2 linked regions of the Homo sapiens genome follow. The protein of the gene in region 1 purifies or fractionates together with the protein of each later gene. This does not show direct contact. Each region holds a gene or a part of one and is shown in the gene's direction. Other genes may lie near its edges. The genes, in order: ESRP1 and ELAVL2.

Region 1 (3,814 bases):
AGCAACAGGTGAAGATTTCCTTAAAATTGCTGGTGGTAAGTGCCTTTTACATAATGTGGCTTTAGTTAATAAGAATCTAAAAATTTTGCATACTTAAATTTAGCAAGAGTAGGTGAATAGGGTCATGAATGGTTTTTATTTTCTAATGGAACATGGGAATAGATTTTCTTCCCCAGAGGTAGAAGCTTCCGATAATAACAGTGAGCTTAATGTATAACACTTGTCCTAAGGCTTGAGCCAACTTACTATAGTTAAATAGCCATTAAAAATAGTACTATACAAAGGTGAAAAGGTGATATGAAGTTGTATGCATATGGAAAGGCTAGGTTTTTTTGTTTTGTTTTTTTGGAGACAGAGTTTCGCTCTGTCACCCAAACTGGAGTGCGGTGGCACAATCTCAGCTCGTTGCGACCTCTGCCTCCCAGGCTCAAGCAATTCTTGTGCCTCCGCCTCCGTAGTGGCTGGGTTTACAGGTGTGTGCCACCATGCCTGGCTAACTTTTTGTATTTTTAATAGAGATGGGGTTTCACCATGTTGGCCAAGCTGGTCTGGAACCCCTGGCTTCAAATTGATCCTCCTGCCTCAGCCTCCCAAAGTGCTGGGATTACAGGCCTGAGCCCCTGTGCCCGGCCAGGAAATGATATTCTTGAAAAGAGTCAGAAAACTGCTTTCAAACGGCCACGCTGCAATACCTGGGATTGTTGCACATGTGCTTCTAATTTTTCTCTAAACTTAACACATGAGTCACCAGAAACATGGTAGTTTTGGGTCTCGTAGTATTTTTGGATGTGTATTTACAGTAATATGGTTAAAAACAGGGTGGAACAGATGTGGTTTTTATCCAGTTATTTAGTGATTAATAACTTTAAAGGAAGTAACATGCATAAAACGTTGACTGCTTTTTGTCTGATTTTTTTCTATATATATATCTACTTTGTAAGTTTCTGTTGCTCATTCATATTGTTTTATAATTTCCTTTTAATGTATATTAACATCATCCTACATTACTCAATTTTCTTAAATGTTAATTGCTACATAGTATTATATGTACCATAATATTTTGAAACATCTCTGTTGGAGCTGGGCACATGGCTTGTGCCTGTAATTCCAGCTACTTGGGAGGCTGAGACAGGGAGGATTGCTTGAGCCTTGGTGTATTTTGAGAATGGCCTGAGCAACATAGTGAGATTCTGTCTGTAATAAATAAAATATCCCTGTTGAGCATTTAGAACTCATTTCCAACTTTTGACTTTAATATGTTGTCAATATTTTAAAATCTCTGTATGCGCCACTCATTGGGATAAATCTCTAAAAGCAGGATAGCTGAATCAAAGAATTTTGGACCTTTTCAACAGCCATTTGACACCTATTGCCAAATTATATGAAGATGACTTTCACTGTGTAAAAGAACATTTGTATTCCTACATTACAGAGCCTGGGTGAAAATTTTGCAGCTATAGAACTTACCGGAACAGCATCCTATTAACACAATCTGCTGGTATATTTTTGCTCCAGTTCATCTTTAGATAAACTCTAAGGCTTCAAAATTCAGGACTTCAAATTTAGGAGCATTTCCAGAGTTCCCAAGCAATGTTTGATATTGTTAGGGGTCAAATATATTTGGGGTTGCTGTGGTTTTACCTAAATCCTGACATTTCATGATAGATGCATTGCAACTTGGAGATGGCAAAGTCAATTGTTTATATCATTTCTGGGATTTCATTGTATATGGGCACTGCGATAAGAATTTGCTATTAGGGGCTGGGCTTGGTGGCTCATGCCTTTAATGCCAGCACTTTGGAAGGCCAAGGCAGGCGGATCACTTGTGGTCAAGAGTTCGAGGCCAGCCTGGCCAATATGGTGAAACCCCATCTCTACTAATAATACACAAATTAGCCAGGAGAGGGGTGTGTGTGTGTGTGTGTGTGTGTGTAATCCCAGCTACTCTGGGAGGCCGAGGCAGGAGAATCAACTTGAATCTCTGCGGCGGTGTTTGCAGTGAGCCGAGACCGTGCCACTGCACTCCAGCCTAGGAGACAGAGTGAAACTGTGTCTCAAAAAAAAAACAAAAAAGAAGCAAAAAGAAGAACGTGCTATTAGGGAAAATGTTACTAGTGTATGAGTTTCAAAGATATGCATTTAAGTATTTGCTATATGACAACACTGTACAAAATGTTTTATGTTGGGCAGAATGTTGATCAATATTGAAAGTAGGTACCCCATATATTCATTATACTATTCTTTTTACTAAGAATGTTTGAACCTTTCTTAATTAAAAAAAAAAAAGGTAATTGAGTTACTTGCAGATGGTTTTCTTGGGAGCAAAAGAGTAATCAGGAAAAGATTTTTTTAACCCAAAGTGCTTTATATCTATTACCCTACTTAATTTTCATAATTTATGACATAGGCAATCTTACAGACAAGAAAAGTAAGGCACGGAGTTGAACTTGACTAAGATTATGCCCTAGTAAGCAGTAAAGCCAAGATTGGACCCAGGCATTCTGGCTCCAGGACCTGTGCCTTTAACTACCACAATGACTTACTAGTGATTGGCCCGTGATTTAATTGTCTTGCCAGCTTCCTAAATTAAGAAGGATGTTTTATGAAAAAGGGGAGGAGTTTCAAATTTAGAAAATTCTGATTTCTAGGATGTTATTTTGCGTTCAGTAGGAGTATGGGTCTTCATTATGAACTCAAGACATTGGCAGGACTTTTATCACTTTAAAATCGGTAAAGTTGATGTCTTAACTATTTCTCTCCCTGCTTCCTAATATTTGTTTTCCCTAGGTACTTCCAATGAGGTAGCCCAGTTTCTCTCCAAGGAAAATCAAGTCATTGTCCGCATGCGGGGGCTCCCTTTCACGGCCACAGCTGAAGAAGTGGTGGCCTTCTTTGGACAGCATTGCCCTATTACTGGGGGAAAGGAAGGCATCCTCTTTGTCACCTACCCAGATGGTAGGCCAACAGGGGACGCTTTTGTCCTCTTTGCCTGTGAGGAATATGCACAGAATGCGTTGAGGAAGCATAAAGACTTGTTGGGTAAAAGATACATTGAACTCTTCAGGAGCACAGCAGCTGAAGTTCAGCAGGTTGGTTTTAAAAACAAGTATGTTGTACCTTTGCATTAATTTCTGTTCTTTATCTCTGAAAATAGTCCTACATTGCTCATTATGTTAAAATAAAACTGGCAAAATACTAAAAGTGTAACTGCATGAAAATAGTCTTGATTCTATAACCAAGAGATAGCCGCTGTTATCCTGTACACACACACAACACATACTACGTATTTTTACAGAAATGGGATACTGCTATAGCTGGATTTTTGTATTCTGTTTTAAAACTATGAAAGCTTACCTATGTCTGAAAAGTTTCATCTTTAAATATCTCATGGAAGTGCATACTTTATCTAGAAATTCCTCTAGTGTACACTTAGATTGATTTTTTTCTACCAGAAGAAATTTCTATGTAAAATGCTTAAAAACCTGTCATCAATTTGATTTCTGTAGCATTGGATATAGAGTGTGAGCTTTTAAGGTTTTTAATGTGTTGCCAAATGTTATTTCCCAAAAGGCTTCATCGGTTTCATACCCTGCTGGTGAGCTCTGTCCTGTTTTACTAGCTTTCAGCATGTGTGTGTGTGTGTGTGTTTGAGATGGGGTCTTGCTCTGTCACCCAGGCTGGAGTGCAGTGGCGCAATCTCTGCTCACTGCAACCTCCGCCTACCCCAGTTGAAGCAATTGTCCTGCCTCAGCCTCTGAGTAGCTGGCATTACAGCTGCCTGCCACCACACCCAGCTAAGTTTTGAATTTTTAAT
Region 2 (3,814 bases), on another chromosome or scaffold:
TCTTCACAAAAAACGCTACGGTTGTAGGAAGAAGTGGTTTGGAAGACTTGGGGAACTCTTCTGAGAGCTCTCCCATAATTTAGTCAGCGTCAGGAAGTAGGGCGTAGGGCATTCTAAGAGTTTTAGGTTTGGATTGACAAATTAAGTAGGCCCATTTTCGCCTAACGTTTTGGAAATAGGCATTTTTAGCAATCCCGCGTGCCTGGGATGAGAATATTATAATTAACTATTTACTGAGAGGTCAAAGAGGCGCAGGCGCTTTGAGCAGTTTTCCCAGGAACCCACACAAAGTCAATTAAGGTCATTTAATTGCAAATCGGATTTGGGGTGACACGGAAATGCTGATATAGAATCAGTTAGCTGTATCCGGTGTCCCCAGACTGGGTCGCACAAATTAAGGGATGGCCTATCTCGCTTTTGACCTTGGTTGAGCCCCCTACTTCACTATGCTGATTAGACTTCGCCCAAGAGGGCAAATTTGCCTCTCCCACACCCGCCCTGGGTTAGACGAGTCCCCTCCCTTCCCCCCAACCCCGCTCCGCCCGTCGCATGGGGGCGGGGAGCGCTGGACGCCCTTAGCGGACCTTGCTGCATCAAACCTGCATCATGCCCTTGAAGCTGTAACCTCGGTCACGTTCTTGCGGCGACTGGGTCGCCCACTGCTCGGTTCCTTTCTCTTACCTCCTACAATTTCAGGTAGGTATGACAGGTGATTTTTTAAATGTAGTATTTTAGGAGAAGGGCTAAAATCGATGCCTTTGCAATGAAAAAAATCCCAACTACAGGTGCTCTCGTAATTAAGCGGCCGAGCAGGTGTAAAAACGTGCTCCAGCCGCGTGGCTCCGGGGTGGGTTTTGACTTCCAGCCGTGGGGCCGGGTCTGAGGACAGGCACAGGTTTTTCTGGGGAAAAGGGATTGAGCTTGGCGAAGGGGCGGGCCAAGGCAAGGCAGCGATGGGACGCCCCCTCGGTGAAGAGTTGGCCATTTCGGGTCTTGAGTTGGGGGGCGATAGAAGGATGCGGCTAGCGGCAAGCGTTTGCATAGTCGAGTGCAGGATTTCCTACTTTGCGTTTGAAGCAGAGTACAGCACCCCGCACAGGTACTCTGGGCTTATTTAAACGTCAGGTTCTCTCTAGAGAGGCAGGGAGGGGCAGCAGGGGGCTAAGCCTTTATTTTCTGTCCAGGGACAGGACCCCTTGGCTGCGAAGTAGGGGGAAAAAGAGAATTTTTAAAAGAGACACACATATGTGTGTATACTTATATATATTTATAAATACATTTATGAACACATAAAGTAACCCCCACGTTAGCTGCTCTGACTCCCCGTTAGCGCCCCGGGCCTCGGGATTTGCAAACTTGCACCTGGAATCAGCCTCCTCTGGGCGCTCAACGCTCTCCACCGAGTCCAGAGAAACCTTGTCGGGGAAGCCTGGTGAGACTCGGAAGTCCGGAGGGACGGAGCTGAGCTGCTGAAGCCCGGCATCTCCCTGCCGGCACGGACCCGAAGGGCGGTCGGGCAGGGCACGCGCCGGCGGCGGCCGCGGCGCCGCGAACTCGCCGCCGGCCCCGCCTCCTGGCGCTCTTCCAAGCAAGCCCCTCCTTCCCGCCCCGCTACAAACGGCGGGACCGCGGCGCCTGGGCGTCACTGAGGCAGTAGCCGGCCGGGTGAGGAGGGCGGTTGCCGGCGCGGCGCGGCGCGGCGCGGGTGGGGCGGGGGTTCCGCCGGCTTCCAGTCCCCTTTCCCGCCGCCGCCGCCGCCACCGCCTCTCCGCGGAGCTCGCCCCGAGCGACTCCTCCGCGGCAGTGCTGACGGCCAGCGGCACGAGCCGTAGTAGCTGCAGCTTCGAGTCACAGCAGGCAAGTGCTGGGGGCGTGGGGGCGGGGACGGCGTCCGCGCCTTGCCCCTGGTCCATTTTGGACGCCGAGGCTAAGGTCTGTGCGCGCCCCCGCTGCGTCTAGCAGGGTAGGGGTGGTGCGCCCTAGTCCGAACTCTGGGCGGGAACACTGGTGGGGGCGGCGGAGGTTGTGCCCGCGAAGTTCCTAGAGCTCAGCCCGTTGCGGCGGGAGTAGAGAGAATTGGGCGCCTCGGGAGGTGGCACCGCCCCTCCCGTGGGCACAAGCAGGTTGGGGGCGGCGGGAGCCGAGCGGGGACAGTCGCGCCTGGCAGCGTGCACGGGCGTGGACGTGCCCGGGTGCGGCCGCGTGTAGCGCAAGAAGGAAACTGTTGAGACGCAGGTGAGTGTATTGGAGGGAAAGTGGGGGAGGGGGCTTTTCTAGAAAAAGGGCAGGATTCCTGTGTTGCACTGGCAACCCCGCCTTGCGGGAGGATGTGTGCACTGGCTTCTCCCGCGGAACACGCCGGGGTGGTGTCTGGTGTGTGCCCACTTGCTACGGCGCCTTCGCGCGCGCGGTCCTTGGAGCTCTCGGGGCGTTTGGAGACTTAACACCGGCCGCGTTGTGTGCGGAGGTGGTGTAGGGCCGCGGGCGCCCAGGGCAGGAGCAATGATGATCCCCTCGTGCGCGTTAGGTGAGGCCCGTCGCAGCCGCGCGAGGTCGCAGCTCGCGGTCACATCTCGGGTTTGCGCGCGAGGCGTGCGCTGCGCGGGAAGCGCGGGCGCTCTGCCGGGCGAGGCCGGCTCTGGGATTTCAGTTCGCTTGCCGTGGTTGCGGCAGCTGCTCCTCCAGCTTGGCTGGTAGGGCCTGCCAGCGGCGGCCGGGGTGCACGGACTAGTGTGCGTGCACTGGTGAGACTGGGGGAGCCAGCGTCGGTTCACTGGCAGGTGCTCCTCCAGTGGCCGTGACAATGCTTAGCCAGCAGTCTTTCTCACGGCATTTCCTTAAAAGCCTCCTTGTTATCCTTCAGGGCCAGAGCGTAAAACCATGCCTCTAGATGCGAGCTATGAGCATGCAGTTGTAGCTGCCCAGATGGTCATTTAGAATTGTGTGCATTTTTAAAGACCATCTTTATGACAAAGATTTTCAAGTCCTATCGTCTCTACATTTTCTGAAAACATGGGAAAAGGATTTGCTACGAGTTGTCCACTCTCCTTTATTCCCTCCCTCAAAGAACGGTTCTTAGAAGTGCCAAAATGTAATACCTTCGGCAAGGACAAAAGCGCTTTTAAAACTTAATTTTCTAGTGGCCCTATTCCTAATAATTCTTCATAAAAATTTAGCTCAGCCTCAAAACTTACGGCGAATCAGTCCATTTAAAACCATTCGAATATCAATTGCTGTGTAATGTCCCCATTCCCTCAAGTAAAATCTGTTTGTTTGAAATATTGTTTTGTTGCCCTTGAAGAGTTTTCTCAAGAATCGTTTCGCCAGAGTCGCTTGAATTTCCCATTTCTTGTGGAAGCTGACCTGGAGTTTCCATTTTGGTGAGCGGGTGGAAAAGCTGTCCTGCATCTACCTTGTCTTAGTAACCTTTGGGTATATATAAATGGTGACTGTATTGCTGAGTGGACCCGAATGTTACTGCATTTGTGGTAGGGGCCTTCTTTATAGGAGGTTTGTAGGGATGCTAAGGTAACAACACTTAAGGTTGTGGGGAGGATATACTTACGGGAAGTTCGCTTGCAAACTATGGGGAGAGAAAGAAGAGGAAGAAAACATCTGGAAGATAAAGGCCAGAATGGGGTAGGAAAAATTAGAATATGAAGAAACATGTTACATTAAATTTTCTGTGATTCCTCCTTTGTAATTTTCCTTTTTGAGAGAGTATTTTTATTTTTGTGTGGTTAAAACCAGCCCCTTGTTGCCTGTTATTTGGGTAACTTTGTGCTGCCACCTTTCAGGGAGTTAGTTGTTTTTT

What was found.
Region 2: the proteins of ESRP1 (region 1) and ELAVL2 purify together in Homo sapiens (affinity purification with mass spectrometry; one large-scale study listed by BioGRID and IntAct). This does not show direct contact.

The regions. Positions count from the first base shown.
Region 1 is NC_000008.11:94,665,162-94,668,975, forward strand, and holds part of ESRP1 (epithelial splicing regulatory protein 1), read left to right. Parts: coding exon 1-35; intron 36-2,787; coding exon 2,788-3,089; intron 3,090-3,814. UniProt on the Homo sapiens protein: mRNA splicing factor that regulates the formation of epithelial cell-specific isoforms. Specifically regulates the expression of FGFR2-IIIb, an epithelial cell-specific isoform of FGFR2.
Region 2 is NC_000009.12:23,819,648-23,823,461, reverse strand, and holds part of ELAVL2 (ELAV-like protein 2), read left to right. Parts: intron 1-329; exon of another isoform or gene 330-696; intron 697-906; exon of another isoform or gene 907-1,099; intron 1,100-1,641; exon of another isoform or gene 1,642-1,857; intron 1,858-2,152; exon of another isoform or gene 2,153-2,235; intron 2,236-2,305; exon of another isoform or gene 2,306-2,527; intron 2,528-3,814.